5 linked regions of the Homo sapiens genome follow. The protein of the gene in region 1 interacts with the protein of each later gene in a pairwise test. Each region holds a gene or a part of one and is shown on either strand. Other genes may lie near its edges. The genes, in order: DCTN3, TRIM55, PBX2, NUP54 and GSK3B.

Region 1 (2,935 bases):
GCAATTGTGTTTTCAGCTCTGAAGCTTGATGTCAGAAGAGACTTCAAGAGAAGAGAGTGGAGAGATAGGGAAGTGGGGATAGGGAGCCTGGTGGAGCCCTGCTCATGTGGCACTGTTGGGTATCAGCTCCTCATTGAAGGCTCTCCTCAAGGCTGACCACTTGTCAAACATCCTTCATAAGGCAGAGCTCTACTGCCCAACCCTATTCCATTTTCCATCTTGCTACTTTTCTAGTTGAAGATCTGATCAAGTACCTGGATCCTGAGTACATCGACCGCATTGCCATACCTGATGCCTCTAAGCTGCAATTCATCCTAGCAGGTAATGCTGGACTACATGTGTACATGCATCTGAGGATGTGGGTCGTCGGGGAGGTTAAGCACAGAGATGGCCTCTCCATCCAGTCTTCTGGTGGATACAAGCCCTGGATGCTGCTCTCTGGAATTGTGGCCTGGTTCTGGGTTGAGGATCCTATGGATCCTCTAGTAGACATTGAGTACAGTATACCTCTGCACCAGCTGCAGGCCATGGTGCCAGCCACAGTGGGAGCTAGTCCAGTGTTCTATCAATAGTTTGCCTCTTGGATTTTCCTTCAGAACCTTCCTCACTTCTGCTCACTAGACAGAGGAGCTTCTAGGAAAGGGTAGGGGCAGAGAGCATTGCCATTAAAGAACAGAGAGAGTATTGGCATGAGTTTCAACATCTTTCTTTCATGTGAGAAAGCTCTGCAGTGTCAGAGTTCTAGGCAGGAACTATTGCCTTGGCAATGTCTGCTAATCAGTCAGCCATTCTATAAGCTAGGGTTTTTTGAGCTTCGTTATTCATCCAAAAGATGTATAATGATCATCTACTCTGATCCAGGTTCTTTCCTAAGTGAGGAAGCATACAGTGGTGAACCAGAAAGTCCCTGCCCTCATGGGCACAGCCAGAGCTAGGGGAGACAGGGTCCCTGCTTCAGGGACCTGAGCTTATAACCCAGATGGGAGATCAGTCTCCCAGGAGACTGATCAGTGCAATGCAGCACTGAGGACTGGGTAAGGATGGGCCACTCCTGCTAAAAGGGCTGTCAGAGTTCCCAAAGGGCTCTTGGTCAATTGCCATCGCTCAAGCACCAAGTTTAGATATTCTCCTGCACTGACTCTTGAGTCCAGCCTCTCCATCCCTCCCTGTGGCACTGCCTCAGGAATTGTGCATCCACTTGCATATGAATGGTTGCACAGTCTCCTAAATCATACTCTTGACCCTAATCTTTCCCTTCCTGCATGTGGTTCAGTCTCACCCTCACAAAAACATGTTCCCAACATGTCACTTTGCCTACTTTGGAACCTCAGTGTATCCTGCCTTGCTAGGATAAAGTCCTAATTCCATAGTCTGCCATTCAAAGCCTTTCAGTCGGCCGGGTCTACCCTCCCATCCAACTCTGTTTCCTGTGCTCTCCCTACTCCAGTTCAGCTAATTGAATTCTTTCTCCTCTACTAATTGACAGGCATTCCTGCCTCTAAGCATTTGCACGTAACAGTCCTCTCTCTTGAATACCCTTCCCACTCTATGGATTTCAGTGCATTGAAATCCCGTGTGCATACAGGGCCTAGCCCAGATCCTGCTCTCCTCACTGGACTCTTCCATTACTGTCCCAGCTCTCCTCCAGCATATAATTGTCTATGCCTCTGAGAGCCACTGAGCAGAACCTGCCTGGCGTAGTCTGCCACATATCTCTTTTAGACCTTCCTGGGGACCCTTGGGTGTGGGGATCCAAGTCTGAAGTATTTTGTATTTTGTGGCCTAGGAGGTGCTCCCTGAGTTTGTTGATAGGAGGCTAGAAGAAGAGGTCTTGAAGTTAAACCTTGGAGAAAGGTGGGATTTGGAGAAATTGAGAGGCTCATTAGGCTCAGATGGGTCAGACCTGAGGCATCCAGGAGAGTTGGGGGCAGGATGGAAATGTGCACCTAGAGAAGGGGGCAGTGGACAGAGTCACTGTCCAAAGCTCTAGGACCTAGCCATCTCCCTTGCCAGGTCCTCAGGCCCTTACATGGGCTGATTAGCAATGCCCAGGTTTGCTTCACTGCAACTATCTTGTCCATTTTTGCTTTAGAGGAGCAGTTTATCCTTTCCCAGGTTGCACTCCTGGAGCAGGTGAATGCCTTGGTGCCCATGCTGGACAGTGCTCACATCAAAGGTATCTCTCTGGGGTTATAGCTTCACTACTCTGGTTGGGGAGGTAGGTGGATGGATGGGCAAGACTTTCCTGTGTTTCAGGTTGTGTGGATTCGGGTTGGGTCTGTTCCTTATCTTTTTTTTTTTTTTTTGGACAGAGTCGTACTCTGTCACCCAGGCTGGAGTGCAGTGGCATGATCTTGACTCACTGCAACCGCTGCCTCCTGGTTCAAACAAACTTCCCACCTTGCCTCCCAAGTAGCTAGGATTACAGGTGTGTGCCACCACACCTGGCTATTTTTAGTAGAGACGGGGTTTCACCATGTTGTCCAGGCTGGTCTCAAACTCCTGGCCCCATGTGATCCACCTGCCTCGGCCTCTCAGAGTGCTGGGATTACAGGCGTGAGCTACTGTGCCTGGCCTGTTCCTTATCTTTATCCTCACCCTGAGGTACTTGCCACATCCACCAATTAAAATTACCAGGATAGAGAGCCCAGTTTTAGGACCTCAGGCAATTTGGGCCTGAGAACACTAGCCTAAGCTCTAGCAGTCCCCAGCTCTGGGGATTCCTTCTGCCTTCTACCTACCCCCAAGCATCTCTTCTTCAAGGTGCTGCAGAACCCAGATTTTACTATCAGAGTCTCTGCCAGGTCCATGAATGTATGTGAATTCTTTCTGCTGCACTGCTGAGAGCAGTCCCTGGGCCTGGACTTTGACAAGCAGATAGTGGCTTTAATTGAATCCAGATATCCATCTTGTCTGTCTGTGGAGGTATTTTTCC
Region 2 (4,210 bases), on another chromosome or scaffold:
GGTCATTCTCCCTGACTCCATACTGAGAATAGTAGAGAAATTGAGAGGAAATGAAACACATTAAAAAAAAAATCTATTCCGCCAGGATTGGTGGCTCACGCCTGTAATCCCAGCACTTTGGGAGGCCGAGGCGGGTGGATCATGAGGTCAGGAGTTTGAGATCAGCCTGACCAATATGGTGAAACTCCTTCTTTACTAAAAATACAAAAATTAGCCGGGCAAGGTGGCATGTGCCTGTAATCCCAGCTACTCAGGAGCCTGAGGCAGGAGAATCACTTGAACCTGGGAGGTGGAGCTTGCAGTGAGCCGAGATCGCGCCATTGCACTCCAGCGTGGGTGACAGAGCATGACTCCATCTCAAAAAAAAAAAAAAAAAAAAAAACCACAAAATCTATTCAACAGATATTTAGTGAACAGCTACTATCCAAGGTGCTCTGTGTCCTAGGCAGACCCAGATTCTACCCTCAAAAAAAATATACTTTGGATATTTAAGAAATTCACATAAAGGAAGAAAGCAATACATGACATAAAAGACTTCAATGTTTACCAAAATGAAAGAATATGTAATAAAGGGTATAGAATGGTCAGAGATGTCAGAAATAAATTTGCTGGATTCCCAAGAAGCTCTCACTGTGCGGGAGAGCTAGGTTAGATCACTATGGCTCACAACCTGCTCTCAGCTATAAAGGTCCTGGACCCAGAGATGGTCAAGTCCAAGGAGATTGGCATACATGCACACCAAGCTTACCAGGGATTGAAAAACCAAAAGGCCAATGACTAGATGAACTGGATAATTAATTATGATTTAAAGATGGGCCCAGACTAAAGGGATCTGGATGGTACTGGAGATACTTCAGCCACACAACACAAATGTGCAAGCCAGACTTCCAACACAGCCTTTCTCTCCAAGAGCATAGACCAGATACAGTATTACCCATTCTTAGGCAGTATTGGATAAATAGAGGATCTGGTAGATACAGATATATGCTATCAATGGTAACTATTATGAGATTTCAGAAAGTTAAAAGTTGCATTCAGCCATAAACATCAAGGGACACTTTATGGAAGAAGTGGTAGTCTGACAATGTCTTTGAAATTGCATAGAGTTTGCAGTGGTGACTTGGGGAAGAACACTGTAGACAGAAGGGAAAGCATGAACAAAGAAAGTGAGTGGTTTATTTTTGCTGGAATTCAGGGTATACAATGGAGGATAGTAGAATGTTATGAGAGAAATTGGAACCAGATCATGGAGGGGTCTTGAAAGCTAGTTAGGAAGTTTAAGTGTTATTCTTTGTGTAATAGGGAGTCATCATAGAAAAAAACATGATTAAGGCCGGGCACGGTGGCTCACGCCTGTAATCCCAGCACTTTGGGAGGCTGAGGTGGGCGGATCACTGTAGGTCAGGAGTTCAAGACCGGCCTGGCCAATGTGGTGAAACCCCATCTCTACTAAAAATTCAAAAATTAGCTGGGTGTGGTGGCAGGTGCCTGTAATTCTAGCTACTTGGGATGCTGAGGCAGGAGAATTGCCTGAACCTGGGAGGCGGAGGTTGCAATGAGCCGAGATCACACCACTGTACTCTAGCGTGGGCAACAGAGCTAGACTCTGTCTCAAAGAAGAAAGAAAGGAAAGAACAAAAAAACATGATTAGAACTGTACTCTGAGAAAATTAACTTGGTTGCAGTGTGTAAGTTGACTGGGAGGAGGGAATCCTAGCTGCAGAGGCCTTTGGGAAGCTACAAATTCTATATAGGAGGACTGAAACTAGGACAATATTGGTATAGGTGGAGCAGAGACTTTAAGGTACAAACCAGGAAGTATCATAGTATTTTCCTTGCATGCACACACATGCACACACACTCCAAAGCAAAATATAACCTATAACCTATGTAACCCAAATATAATATAAAAGAAAATCATTCTTTATTTCTATGAAATTCTCCATTTATAAAGAACAGAAGATTGAAAAACCATTGATTCATGTAGCCAATTTAATTGAGTTTTAGATAGTCTAAATATCAAATTTGTTAAAAATGGAATTTCCAAAGCACCAACATAGTGGGTATCCATACCTAAATAGACATCTTCAGGGAAAAGAAAAAAATATCCTACATAAGTAAATGTTCTTCTTTCCCAGGATAACTAGGTGATTTCTCCAAATCGACTTTGTTTCAAATACTTTCTAACATTAGCTAACCCAACTAATAGGAATGTTGCAGAAAACAGAAACAAGAGCTTTGTGAGAAGTTTGATTACCTGTATGGCATTTTGGAGGAGAGGAAGAATGAAATGACCCAAGTCATTACCCGAACCCAAGAGGAGAAACTGGAACATGTCCGTGCTCTGATCAAAAAGTATTCTGATCATTTGGAGAACGTCTCAAAGTTGGTTGAGTCAGGAATTCAGTTTATGGATGAGCCAGAAATGGCAGTGTTTCTGCAGGTAAGTCTCTTTTTGGCACCAAAGTAACAACCCAAAAGGTGGGTGTTGGAAAATTAGTTATCACATTTTTATTATTTTATGTACATTTCAGTTTTTATTTATTTTACCAACTAAAATATAAACCCCATGTGCTTATATATTAATCTATTTAAACAACTTAAATAGCATGTCTATGATACTGCTTAAATCTAATAGGGTTCTGTTATAAGACAGCAGTTATTTATGACATTTAGAAACTAAGCTATGAGATTCTCAGAGTCAACAAAGGAAATAATTGTCTTACCACTGTCTTTTGTGGAAATAATTTAAGTAAGACTATCTTTTGTTTGCTTTCACAGAATGCCAAAACCCTGCTAAAAAAGTAAGAACTTTTTATTTTATGTAAAAATGCATATTTTCACCTTTACCCAAGGCTATCCAATTTTCAACAGTGACAGAAAGTGGCAACTTGTCTTTGTTGCAGAATCTCGGAAGCATCAAAGGCATTTCAGATGGAGAAAATAGAACATGGCTATGAGAACATGAACCACTTCACAGTCAACCTCAATAGAGAAGAAAAGATAATACGTGAAATTGACTTTTACAGAGGTTTGTTATTCTTTTGACCATTTGGCCGAAGTTGCAGGTGTGTGAAAGCTGCCGAAGAGTTGGGTGGGAGGAAAGCGGGGATTCAGAATCACCTCCAGAATCAATGTCGACAACTTTACAAGGATCATATCCAATGTGAAGCTCTATTTCATTACAGGATCACATCGTTTGTTGACAGTGTTTATTTAGCTTTGCACATATGGTGCCTTTTTTTTTTTTTGATGGACTCTCACTCTGTTGCCCAGCCTAGAGTGCAATGGCACGATCTTGGCTCACTGGAACCTCCACCTCCTGGGTTCAAGCGATTCTCCCGCCTCAGCCTCCTGAGTAGCTGGGATTACAGGCACCTGCCACCACACCCGGCTAATTTTTGAATTATTAGAGAGGTAGGGTTTCGCCATGTTGGCCAGGCTGGTCTCGAACTTCTGACCTCAGGTGATCCACCTGCCTTGGCCTCCCAAAGTGCTGGGATTACAGAAGTGAGCCACCATGCCCGGCCTGGTGCCTATTTTAATGTCAGGTTGGGTATTTGACTCTTGATAAGCAAATGCTTCATAATTGATAATGATGATATCTCAACTTCAATCCTATGCACAGTGTTAGCCAAAATAATGTAAAGTGTCAGCAGGAGCAAGGTTAAAGATGAGATAAAAACAATACATAGGAGGCATGTGGGTTAGATATTGCAGCACATCAACTTAATCAAAATTTAGAGGACAAGAATAGTAACAACTCATAGAATAAGTCACAACCTGAACATAAACCTGGGTCTGTGTGACTAGTTATACTCCCTGAGCTATAACCACATTCCTACCTTTTGGCCCAGAAGTCCCATTTCTGAAATTTTATCCTGATTAAATAATTGAAAAGTGAAAAACAATCTTGGAGCTGACCAAAACTTTGATCACTTTGACTCATGCTAGCCCACCTAGATGATCACACCCCTCAGCTAGACCACTAGACCACTAGTAATGCTATGAGGCTGCACCAACATCCACAGACAAAATTTTAAAGGCAAATCTTTAGGATGTATCTTTTTAAAAAAATCGCTTAATATTGCCTGTCCTTAATGTCGCCTGAGGGAATATTAAGATCAGTGGGTCAGGAAAAGAGTCACGGCATTCCAGCACTTTGGGAGGCCAAGGCGGGTGGATCACTTAAGGCCAGGAGTTTGAGACC
Region 3 (3,680 bases), on another chromosome or scaffold:
CTCCAAGACCCTGAGCTGCCATGCTGCACAACATGGTACTCCATGACAATGGTGACTCTGGGGTCATGCCATGTGACAGCCCTGCCAGGACATCAACATCCTCCTCACTGCTCTTCTCCCTCCTCTGTAGACGAAAGCGCCGTAACTTCAGCAAACAGGCCACTGAGGTCCTAAATGAGTATTTCTACTCCCACCTGAGTAACCCATATCCTAGTGAGGAGGCCAAGGAGGAGCTTGCCAAGAAGTGTGGCATCACCGTGTCTCAGGTATTATGGAGGTTGCGGGAGGAGTTGTCAGGCAAAGTGCACGCATCTCAGCTAGGTGCAGTGGTGTGTTCCTGTAATCCCAGCTACTAGGGAGGCTGAAGTGGGAGGATCACTTGAATTGGAGACCAGCCTGGGCAACAGCATAGTGAGACCAGGAAGCAAAAAAAAAAAAAATGCTGTCACTCACATCTTATTCAGTGAAGGACTTCAGAGGCAAATGTTTCTACCTGACCCTCCTTTCTGCCCCACAGGTCTCCAACTGGTTTGGCAACAAGAGGATTCGCTATAAGAAAAACATCGGAAAGTTCCAAGAGGAGGCAAACATCTATGCTGTCAAGACCGCCGTGTCAGTCACCCAGGGGGGCCACAGCCGCACCAGCTCCCCGACACCCCCTTCCTCTGCAGGTGGATCCCACTGTCACCCCGGCTGACTGTTTTGCACACTTCCTGCTTTTGTTCCCACTTCCTATCTAGGCAGGATCATAGCAGAGAGGGGGCCTTTTGGGGTGAGAGGGACCGAGCTGAGATAGGCTGGAGATGTCAGGGGACAGAGGCCATTCCAGTGATCTTAGTTCTGCCTTTCTTCCCACGGGTGGCCAAGGAACAGCCTGCTCTTTCTGTGTGTTGGAATGTTATTTTGTGGATAATTGGAGTATAGTAGCATGTCCCCACAAGAGTTGAGAGTTGTGGTTCATCCTCTACCATCACGGGCTCTATTACACTCTTCCCTCTCTGCCCCCACAAGGCTCTGGCGGCTCTTTCAATCTCTCAGGATCTGGAGACATGTTTCTGGGGATGCCTGGGCTCAACGGAGATTCCTATTCTGCTTCCCAGGTCAGATGCCCATCTCCTCTCGAATAGGGCTTTCCCCAACTCCATTTCCTCTACTTTAGGATACAAGACCTCTTTCCTCTGAGGCTTCTCTTCACTGTCATACCTTCCTCTGCTGCCTGCAGGTGGAATCACTCCGACACTCGATGGGGCCAGGGGGCTATGGGGATAACCTCGGGGGAGGCCAGATGTACAGCCCACGGGAAATGAGGGTGAGTGGATCCTGAAGCTCCTCTCTGTCCAGTTCTCACAGGACAGAGGGGCATTTTCCCTAGTAATGTTGTGCCCACACAGGGTTCCCAGGGCTTTCTCTGTTTTCTGTACTCTGTCTCTCCTTTCAGGCAAATGGCAGCTGGCAAGAGGCTGTGACCCCCTCTTCAGTGACATCCCCAACGGAGGGACCAGGGAGTGTTCACTCTGATACCTCCAACTGATCTTGCCCCTCAGGGTCACAGGGGTGGGGGCTCTCACAAGGCGACTTGAAGAGGACGCAGGCTTCCAGAGGACAAACCCCAATACAGGAGAAGCACAAGACAGAGAAGGGCCAATGGGGTCATCCCCTCCCTAACGAGACTCTCTGTGCTGGGGGTGCTAATTACATGGCAGGAAGAATGGGGCCTCTAAGGGGAGTGTGGGGTCTGTCTCTCCCTTTTTTCCATCTTTTTCCTCTCTCGCTTTCTTTCTTACACAGAAACATACACATACCGAGAAACCTATTTCTCAGACCCCTTTTTCTCCTCTGTCTTTCTCTCTCCCTCTCCCACACCTCACACACACATACTCCCACTTGCAACTATTCTGTTTCTCTCCTGGGCTCCCCCACTTTCCCTTCCCCACCCCACTTGTATGCTCTGGAATCTGTGGAGACGCCAGCCCTGCCCAATCAGAGATGCCAAAAATGGGGACATGACTTCTGGACAGAGGACATGGGCCACGCCCCCATGCATCCCCACCCCCGCCCCTCCGGACGGCTTACTTACCTCATACGCAGCTCATCTTAAACCAATAGAATCGCTCGGTGGACGAGAGTGTCTGACTCAGATATCTACCTCGGAGGGAGTTTCTGCTACTTTAGGGAATTATTGACTGGGCTTTGGGGTTGAACTTTTTTTTTTTTAAAGAAAGAAAAAGAAACCCTGGGATCCATCTGTTTTTTTTGTTGTTGTTGTTGTTTTTGTTGTTGTTGGTGGTGGTGGTGGTGGTGGTTCTTAATTTTTAATTTAGTTTGGGGAAGTAGCTTGTTTTTTTTTTTATAAATATGTTGATTTCTTGTCTTTTTTTTTTTTTATTTCTTACTTTCCCATATTAGGGGTGATAGCCAAAGGGGTTCTGGTAAGAGAAAGGGGGACAAACAGAACTGGTAAAGAGGCCCCCCTGGCTCCAGGCCTGTCCATCAGGAAGTAAATTTTACAGGGCACCAAGCTTTGCCCCCTAAAATCCCTTAGGTGTTCTTTGTTCATGCAGGCAGGTTTCTGCCGCATTTGATGTGGAGGCAGTGAAGGGCTTGCCCTGCTGGCCTCTCATCCCCCTTCTTCCCACAACCCTTGGGCAGGGCTGGACTCAGTAATTTTGAGGAAATTGAAGATGCCATCTTCCCCTGTGAGTGACATGTCTTTAATTTTTTAAAAAACTACTATTTGAAAATTGGAGGGGGAAGAATGGGAAGGGAGTTATTGCCAAATATGTTAAATATGGGTTGGGGTGCTTGTATATGTATCTTCCTCAATTTCCCCATAAATGAGGTATCTTTTTGTCACACCAAAATCAAGGGGTAGGGAGAGGGAGGAGGTTGCAAAAAGCCAGATGTGGGGGAAAAGTAACATCAACACTGTCCCATCCTCAGCCCTGAACTAGCTACCATCTGATCCCCTCAGACATTCTCAGGATTTTACAAGACTGTCAGAGTGGGGAACCCCTCCCATTAAAGATCCGGGCAGGACTGGGGACAGGTTGGAAGTGTGATGGGTGGGGGGGTGGGAGGCATGGGCCGGGGGCAGTTCTCTCCTCACTTGTAAACTTGTGTAGTTTCACAGAAAAAAAACAAAATGCAGTTTTAAATAAAGAAATTTCTTTTTTCCCTGGGTTTAGTTGAGAATTTTTTTCAAAAAACATGAGAAACCCCAGAAAAAAAATGATTTTCTTTCACGAAGTTCCAAACAGGTTTCTCTCCTGTTCCCCAGCCTTGCCTTCATGATGCAGGCCCAATTGCACCCTTGCAGACAACAGTCTGGCCTGAACCCTATTGATGCAACTTTGCGCAATCAAGATGGGGCTCCAGTGGGTCACCAGGCAGCCCTGATGGACTGATGGAATAAATAGGATCGGGGGCTCTGAGGGAATGAGACCCTAGAGGGTACACTCCCCATCCCCCAGGGAAGTGACTGTACCCAGAGGCTGGTAGTACCCAGGGGTGGGGTGATAATTATTTCTCTAGTACCTGAAGGACTCTTGTCCCAAAGGCATGAATTCCTAGCATTCCCTGTGACAAGACGACTGAAAGATGGGGGCTGGAGAGAGGGTGCAGGCCCCACCTAGGGCGGAGGCCACAGCAGGGAGAGGGGCAGACAGAGCCAGGACCCTGGA
Region 4 (4,210 bases), on another chromosome or scaffold:
TTATTAGCTACATTTATATTTTTTGTGAGTTACCTATTTGTGTCCTTTGCCCATTTTCTAGATTTTTTTGTCTTCCTTTTTGATGTATAGGAACTCTTTCTATATTCTGGAGGTTAATCTATTATCCTATAGGTTATAGATAGTTCCTTTCAATCTGTGCTTTTTTTGAACTTTATTTATTCTGCAAAAATTTGTATTTTTACCATGATTATATTTGACAGTCACTTTTCATTATAGCTTCTAGGTATAGGGTCTTGCTTTAGGAAAGCCTTTGTCATACACATATTATAAAAATAGAAAATTGTTTTAGAAAAAATATTTTTTATTTGTGGTAGGTGTTGATCCTATTATCTGGGAACAGGCCAAGGTAGATAACCCTGATTCTGAAAAGTAAGTATGTCTTCATCTTGTTTCATTTAAGAACTAATATTTGCTACTAGGAAAGCAAACATGGGAGCTATTAATTATAATTCTTACATATGAGACAAGTTTATTTTCATTTTCCTGGCCTTTAAAAAATATTGATTATTGTCCAGCTAAAGCTTCAGCCAAAACAAAAAGAAAAAAATAAGAAAAAAAAAGATTATGGTAAGGCAGCATAGCATAGTGAGAACTAACTAGGAGCGGAAAATTCTATTTGCGTTTTCATTTAATAATGTAATGTTTTGACTGAACTGTATTTCCTCATTTGTAAAATAGGGAGGTTGAATAAAATCTCTTTGGTATAACATGGTTATCTCATAGTCATAGATCTGCCTTAGAGCCCTAGAAAGTTGATGTAAAATTACATGAGTGTTACTAAAACCTTCACTTCTTGTATTTTGTAGTAATAGGCTTAAGGTCTGAAAATTGTTCACTGCGTTTCTTCAGGTTAATTCCTGTACCAATGGTGGGTTTTAAGGAACTTCTCCGAAGACTGAAGGTTCAAGATCAGATGACTAAGCAGCATCAAACCAGATTAGATGTAAGCATTTAGCTTTTTATTCCCTGGCCCTGGAAGTAGGGAAAGGGATTATAGACATTTAATTCTTTTTAGTATATGTGCTACTGTTTTATCTTAATCAGGAAACAATGTAGCATACACTGCAATTTAATAGTTTTATACAACTACCTTCTTTATGATAGAAGTCCCCAAATCACATGAATCTGATTTGATATAATAATGAATTTAGAATTCTTGTCTTAGTGGATTAATTAGACTGTCATTTCCAGTTTCAGCCAGGGATTGCATATTATTATTTATGGGGCCTTATGAAAATGAAGGTTATAGTAATGATTATTTTATGTTGACATATAATTGTCTTGGTATATTATTGTATGTTGATAAAATTAATGCTTAAATATACTTAATATTTTATTTCATAAAGTAGACTTTTTTAGGAGACCAGGGTGGGTGGATCACTTGAGATCAGGAGTTCAAGACAAGCCTGGCCGACTTGGCAAAACCTGGTCTGTACTAAAAAATTCAAAAATTAGCTGGGTGTCGTGGTGCACGCCTGTAATGCCAGCAACTTGGGAGGCTGAGGCATGAGAATTGTTTGAACCCGGGAGGCAGAGGTTGCAGTGAACAGAAATCGTGCCACTGCACTCCAGCCTGGGCGACAGAGTGAGACTCCTCAAAAAAAAAAAAAAAAAAAAAAAAAAAAAAAAAAACTTTCATAATTAAATACTTAAAGATTCTTAAAGGTCAGAGAAATTTCTATGATTTCAATTCTTTTAACTTTGCTAAGGTTTTTTTTTTTTTTTTTTTTTTTTTGAGACGTCTCTCGCTCTGTCGCCCAGGCTGGAGCACAGTGGCGCGATCTAGGCTCGCTGCAAGCTCCACCTCCTGAGTTCACGCCATTCTCCTTCCTCAGCCTCCGGAGTAGCTGGGACTACAGGCGCCTGCCACCACGCCCGGCTAATTTTTTGTATTTTTAGTAGAGACGGGGTTTCACCGTGTTAACCAGGATGGTCTCGATCTCCTGACCTCGTGATCCACCCATCTCGGCCTCCCGAAAGTGCTAGGGTTACAGGCGTGAGCCACTGCGCCCGGCCAACTTTGCTGAGGTTTTATAACCCAGGAGCCTATGAAAATAATGTGTATTCTGCAGTCCTTGGGTGAAGTTTTCTATTAATGTCAGTGAGATCCAGTTGGTTGATAGTATTGCTCAGTTCTGTATTCTTGTTGTTTTTTCTGTCTGCTAGTTTGAGAAGAGATTTGAAATCTACAGCAACACTTACGGATTTGTGTTTTTCTCCTTTCATTTCTCAGTTTTTGCTTCATGTATTAATAGTTTGAAGGGCTGTTGTTATATAGGATTGTTGTGTTTTCTTGGCAAATTTACCTTTTATTATTATATCATATCCCTCTTAATCCTCGGTAAGTTTTAAATCTTCTCTAATGGCCTTTTCTTTTATTGTTTTTAATCGATACATAACTACATATTTATGGGGCATAGTGTGATAATTCAATACATGGATATAGTGTGTAATGATCAAATAAAGTAATTAGCATATCCATTACCCCATACATTTATCATTTGTTGGTATCATGGGAAATTCACTCCTATAGCTATTTGAAACACAATAAATGGTTGTGAATTATAGTTACCTATAGTGCTATAGAACACTGGAACTTAATCCTCCTATCCAGCTGTACTTTTGTATCTGTTAAGCAACCTTTGGCAGTTCCCTACTCCTACTCTTTCTCCACCTCTAGTAGCCACTATTCTACTCTTTTCTTCTACTAAATCAACTTTTTTTAGCTTCCACATATGAGTGAGAACATGCAGAATTTATCTTTCTGCACGTGGCTTATTTCACTTAACAAAATGTCTTCCAAGTTCATCTATGTTGCTGCAAATGGTAGCACTTCATTCTTTTTCATGATTAAATAGTATTCTATTGTGTGTGTATATATGTGTACACATACACACCATGTTTTCTTTATCCATTCATCTGTTCATGGACACTTACTCAAGACACTCAGAAGTCTTTGTCTGGTGTTAACATAGCCACGCTACCTTTCTTTTGATAAAAAGTGTTTGTATGGCATACCTTTGTCCATCTTTTTGCTTTTAACCTACCTATATTGTTATATTTGAAGCGAGATTCTTGTAGACAGCAAAAAGTTTGGATTTAGTCCTACCATTTATTTGTTTTGTGTTTGTAGCCTCTGTTTTTCATTCCTGTTTCTACTTTTCTGCTTTCTTTTGAGTTATTTGGACTTTTTTTTTTTTTTCAGCATTTCCTTTTAATCTATTATTTCAAGTCTTAGAGCAGTACTTCTTAGTAGTGGCTTGTGGTGGTGGTGGTGATTTTGTCTCCCAGAGCACATTTGGCAATGTCTGGAGACTCTTGGTTGGGGAGTACTACAGGCGTCTAATGTGTAGAGGCCCAGATGCTGCACACATTCTGCAGTGTACAGAACAGTACTCCCACAACAAGGAATTACCCAAGATTAATAGTGCTGAAGTTGAGAAACCTTTCTCTAGGTAATACGATGTATCTCCTCCCACTATAACTAGCAGACTTCCCTTGGAGCTCCCTTTCAGCATTTATGCTCATTTCCAGGTTTGAGGCTGGGTTGAAACCAGACTAGGGACGCCTGAGGGGAAAAATGGGTAAACTCACCACAAGTTTATTGGTACTTTAAATTCCTATCTTACCTGATCTTCCTGCCAGAGTTCCCAAATAGCTGCCCCGTGTATTCCATCCAAGTTTTATAGCTATATTAAATGGGAGAGATTGGGGTTGTATATGCTTAGTCCATCTTGTCCAGAACTGAAATCATTCATATCTTTGGCCAGTGTTTCCACTGGGCTTCCTATTTTTTCTTTATTGAACTTCAGTAATCATTTACTCTAGATTGTAGTCTCTGTTTATAACGTTGTAAATATCTTCTAGTTTCTCATCTCTTTGTTAATTCTGTCTTTGGTGTCTGTAGTTGAAGAGAAATCCTTAATTTTAATGTAATGATATCCATTAAATGTTTGCCTTGTATTTTCTTTTTGGGAATTTGCTTAAATAATTTTTCACCCCAAAGTCTGAGAGTATCCTACATTAAAAAAAATTTAGAGTTTAACCTTTCACGTTTGAGTCTTTTGTTGTCATCATGAAGTTTACCTTTATATAAAGTATGTGGTATGAACTCAGATTTATTTTTCTCTAAATAGTGGGTCCATTTTTTTTTTTTTTTTTTTTTTGAGATGGGGGTCTCGTTCTGTCG
Region 5 (4,210 bases), on another chromosome or scaffold:
CAAATCTATAAAGACAGAGAGTAAATTAGTGGTTGCCTAGAGCTGTGGGGAAGGGGAACATAGGGAATGGCTGCTAATGGGTATAAGCTTTATCTCTGAAATGATAAAAGTGCTCTAAAATTAGATGGTTGGGATGGTTACACAAGTCTATGAACACCTGAGTAATGAAAAAATGAATGTTACGGTATGTGAATTATATCTCAATAAAGCTATTCTCATAAGGAAATGTGATCACTGTATACTACTTGTTTCTACATAGAATACTGTTCCATGTCTACATACTGAGAATAATTTGAATAATAATTTAAATAAATAATAGTTTTTAAATAGTGGCATAATTATATCAGTATGAAAGCAAAAGGGAGATGGGCATGACAATAAATGATGTCTACCACAATAAGACAAAAAAATTAATTTTAAGAAATAGATAAAAAGCATATAATTAAAAATATGACAAAAACTACTAGAGGAAACAGCTGTCATAGCCAATGTTGCTTCTAAGAAGTAGGACTGGAGGACAGAAGATTACTTTCCATCATAAGCCCTTCTGCACTATTTGATTTCTTTAAATCATATATTCCTTTATAAAAGTAATTTTTATTCAACAACTAAGGGGTGCTTGATTTAGGAGCAGAATGAAACCGTACGCTCTTAAAGAAGTAAAAGGCACAGGCTTCATTGACACTGACGCACTCTGCGCCTCTGATCTCTCAAGAGAACAGGTTTTCTCATCTAAGATGTTAGAAAAATAGAAAGTTAAAAAATTATCCTGTCTTTTTATTATGAAATAAACATCTATTTTAAATGTGCTATTAATTGTTCATTGGTTAAGACTATTAACATTTTACCTCTAATTGCCACGAGAGGAGCTCTGTCATCTTTGCACTTATTCTCCAACTAACTTATATTTAGAGAAATAAGTATTTACTAATTTAATAGGTTAAAAAATAGCAATTTTCTAGAGTTACTGATTTAAATTTGTTTTAATTCTAACACTTCTGCTAAAGCTATTGTTAATTTATGTATGTATACACAAAATGCAAGTCTACTATAGAAATCATTAATCCGTAAAGATTCAGAATACCTATGAAAGGACACATAAGAAATTGTAATGCCAGTGGTCTCCAGGAAAGAGAACTGGTTGTTGCAGAGCAGGAGAGAAGACTTCACTGAATATCTTTAAAATTTTGAACCATGTGAGTAAATTACATTTTTTAAAATTTAAAGCAAAATAGGTAAATAAAACATGCAATTATCTGGCACACCGCACTCAATAATTACTGCCGTTATTACCATATATTATGAGAATATGATATACAGTACGTTGCTCTTCTATATACATGTAATTATATCTTATTATTAAAAGTCTACCAACTCAAAGCTTCCCCCTTTCCTTCATAATTTAAGTAATGTATAGAATGTGAAAACCCTGAATTCCACTAGGGCAAATGTCCCTGCAAATACTATCAGTCTGATGTCAGACATAATTCCAGTACCTCCAACTCTTCAGGTGCTCACACCACATACTCAAAATCTAGCATTAGAAATTCAATTGACTCAACTCAATAACTTCAACACAGGTCATGAAGAAAGTGTTAATCAATTAAAAATATTAACTGATTTTGCTGTACTTTGCGAGGCTGAGGCCAGCAGATTGCCTGAGGTCAGGAGTTCAGGACTAGTCTGGCCAACATGGTGAAACCCCATCTCTACTACAAATACAAAAAAATTAGCGGGGAATGGTGGCATATGCCTGTAATCCCAGCTACTCAGGAGGCTGAGGCAGGGGAATTCCTTGAACCAGGCCTCGAGGTGGCGGTTGCAGTGAGCCAAGATTGTGCCACTGCACCCCAGCCTGGGCGACACAGTGACATTCCGTCTTGAGAAAAAAAAAAAAGTATTAACTAATTTTATAAAATAACAGGAAGCAGACAGTGTTGCATTTAAATAAGATACCTTTCCTTGGAAAAAAACCTAAATCACCCAACCTTTCTAGTTATATTAGCCAATTAAGCCCCTAAGAATTTCTCAGACCTCCAAAAGAAAAACTACTTTGCCACTATCACCCTTTTTCTTCAGCCTAACAATTAAGATACCCAGCTTTTCAATTCTCATAGGCCATAAATGTATCTAGAAAAGTTCCTCTCTACATAGCTATTCATAATTCATAAGAAAGCTTAAATGACTCCATGCAGTGCCTTCTAAGCAGTCCACAAACAAAAGGTACAAGCCAGCCAAAATCCAAGCAGCAATTCCATATATACTAAGGAGGAAAAAAAAAAAAACAGAAATAGTAAGACAACAAATCTTAAATCAGATAAAACTCTGCTGCTGAGTTAATAAATGTAGATGGACAATGGAAGAAAGAGTTGGAAACAATACCCTGGGCTAGCACACTAAAGACTTTAGTACCTTTATCCATACTGCTGAAATCCAACTAGAAGATGGTGAATCAGACAGAGGTGACCCAGTTCTCTTCATCACTTCAGTGATCAACAAATTACAGATATTTTATGTAGTTTATGCAGAAGCCCAGGTTTCCACAAGAGATTTTTCTGCCTCCTGCCTCTTTAAAAGAGAATTAATATTCTCAGATGGGTGCAGTGGCTCATGACTGTAATCCCAGCACTGTGGGAGGCTGAGGCAGGATTGCTTGATTCCAGGAGTTCAAGACCAGCCTGGGCAAGATGGCGAAACCCCCTCTCTATAAAAACTACAAAAACTAGCCAGGCATGTTGGCGCATGCCTATAGTCCCAGTTACTCCAGAGGTTGAGGTTAAAAGATCACCCGAGCCCAGGAGGCAGAGGCTGCAGTGAGCCAAGACTGTGCCACTGCACTCCAGGCTAGGCATAGGCAACACAGCGAGACCCTGTCTCCAAAAAAAAAAAAAAATTTCTCTGGGTGAACATTTTCAACAATTATCAGAATGATTTACCCTGGAACTATATGAACCTACATACCCTACATACACTAAGTAATCCCAATATGCTTGTTTCCCCTAATCATCCATTCTTTTCAGTAGCATAATGCTTAATCAGTACCTATCCATTCCCCTGATCTGTGATTTCAAAAAAACCCAGACAACTCAATGAATTACAACTATATGTTAAATAATAACAAGGAACCGTTAATAAAAGCCTGAAAACTAACCTATGAGCAAAGTTTACACTCCATTTGTCTGCAGATATTAGCTGCTCAGGAGCACTTCTGGTTTACTGTCAATTACCAGCCAATTCCAATAAGGTGAGATTCCAAATAACACAATTCCACATTGATGCATAGCTGTTATTCTTCAGGAAAACTAAATTAGAAACACAATTTAGTTCGGCCACATGTGGTGGTTCACGCCTGTAATCCCAGCACTTTGGGAGGCCGAGGTGGGAAGATCACAAGGTCAGGATTTTGAGACCAGCCTGGCCAACACAGTGAAACTCCGTCTCTACTAAAAATACAAAAAATTAGCCAGGTGTGGTGGCAGGCACCTGTAATCCCAACTACTTGGGAGGCTGAGGCAGGAAAATCGCTTGAACCTGGGTGGCAGAGGTTGCAGTAAGCCCAGATCACGCCATGGCACTCCAGCCCAGGAAACAGTGCGAGACTCCATCTCAAAAAAAAAAAAAGTGTACTTTTTATTACTGAATTGATTTGAAATAAGAATCAAGAAATTAACCTTAGACCATGTTATTAAGGGAACACGTTAAGGACTTGGCTTTGTGCTGTTGTTAACCATGGTACTCTGGAAATAAAAAGTTGGTTTGACAAAACTAGTTTCAAGACAAATACATCATTACTTCAAGTGATCAAACCAAACATGCTAAGAAAACTATTCAATACAAAAAATATAAGATTTAATCACTTATAAAATTGGAACCTGCACATTGTTTGGAAGTTGACCTCTCTTCCCAAAATATAAGCAAAAATGGTAAGGGGGATTATAAACTAAGAACCCAAATCGACTAAATTGTCTTTTGTTTTGTTTTTTTTTTGAGACAGAGTCTCTCTCTGTCGCCCAGGCTGGAGTGCAGTGGCACGATCTCAGCTCACTGCAATCTCCGCCTCATGGGTTCAAACGATTCTCCTGCCTCAGCCTCCTGAGTAGCTGGGACTACAGACGCACACCACCACGCCCCCGCTAATTTTTGTATTTTTAGTAGAGACGGGGTTTCCCCACGTTGGCCAGGATGGTCTTGATCTCCTGACCTCGTGATC

What was found.
Region 2: the proteins of DCTN3 (region 1) and TRIM55 interact in a two-hybrid assay, tested with the Homo sapiens proteins (one large-scale study listed by BioGRID).
Region 3: the proteins of DCTN3 (region 1) and PBX2 interact in a two-hybrid assay, tested with the Homo sapiens proteins (one large-scale study listed by IntAct).
Region 4: the proteins of DCTN3 (region 1) and NUP54 interact in binary tests that used the Homo sapiens proteins (3 or more experiments, as listed by UniProt).
Region 5: the proteins of DCTN3 (region 1) and GSK3B interact in a two-hybrid assay, tested with the Homo sapiens proteins (one large-scale study listed by BioGRID and IntAct).

Annotation. Positions count from the first base shown.
Region 1 is NC_000009.12:34,615,271-34,618,205, reverse strand, and holds part of DCTN3 (dynactin subunit 3), read left to right. Parts: intron 1-234; coding exon 235-321; intron 322-2,092; coding exon 2,093-2,176; intron 2,177-2,935. UniProt on the Homo sapiens protein: Part of the dynactin complex that activates the molecular motor dynein for ultra-processive transport along microtubules. Together with dynein may be involved in spindle assembly and cytokinesis.
Region 2 is NC_000008.11:66,147,436-66,151,645, forward strand, and holds part of TRIM55 (tripartite motif-containing protein 55), read left to right. Parts: intron 1-2,209; coding exon 2,210-2,443; intron 2,444-2,781; coding exon 2,782-2,804; intron 2,805-2,906; coding exon 2,907-3,031; intron 3,032-4,210. UniProt on the Homo sapiens protein: E3 ubiquitin ligase that plays an important role in regulating cardiac development and contractility, muscle growth, metabolism, and fiber-type differentiation.
Region 3 is NC_000006.12:32,184,233-32,187,912, reverse strand, and holds the end of PBX2 (pre-B-cell leukemia transcription factor 2), read left to right. Parts: intron 1-130; coding exon 131-266; intron 267-517; coding exon 518-671; intron 672-1,011; coding exon 1,012-1,100; intron 1,101-1,222; coding exon 1,223-1,309; intron 1,310-1,438; coding exon 1,439-1,531; 3' UTR 1,532-3,180; downstream 3,181-3,680. UniProt on the Homo sapiens protein: Transcriptional activator that binds the sequence 5'-ATCAATCAA-3'. Activates transcription of PF4 in complex with MEIS1.
Region 4 is NC_000004.12:76,127,410-76,131,619, reverse strand, and holds part of NUP54 (nucleoporin p54), read left to right. Parts: intron 1-335; coding exon 336-390; intron 391-870; coding exon 871-964; intron 965-4,210. UniProt on the Homo sapiens protein: Component of the nuclear pore complex, a complex required for the trafficking across the nuclear membrane.
Region 5 is NC_000003.12:120,083,924-120,088,133, forward strand, and holds part of GSK3B (glycogen synthase kinase-3 beta), read right to left. Parts: intron 726-4,210; exon of another isoform or gene 641-725; intron 1-640. UniProt on the Homo sapiens protein: Constitutively active protein kinase that acts as a negative regulator in the hormonal control of glucose homeostasis, Wnt signaling and regulation of transcription factors and microtubules, by phosphorylating and inactivating glycogen synthase (GYS1 or GYS2), EIF2B, CTNNB1/beta-catenin, APC, AXIN1, DPYSL2/CRMP2, JUN, NFATC1/NFATC, MAPT/TAU and MACF1.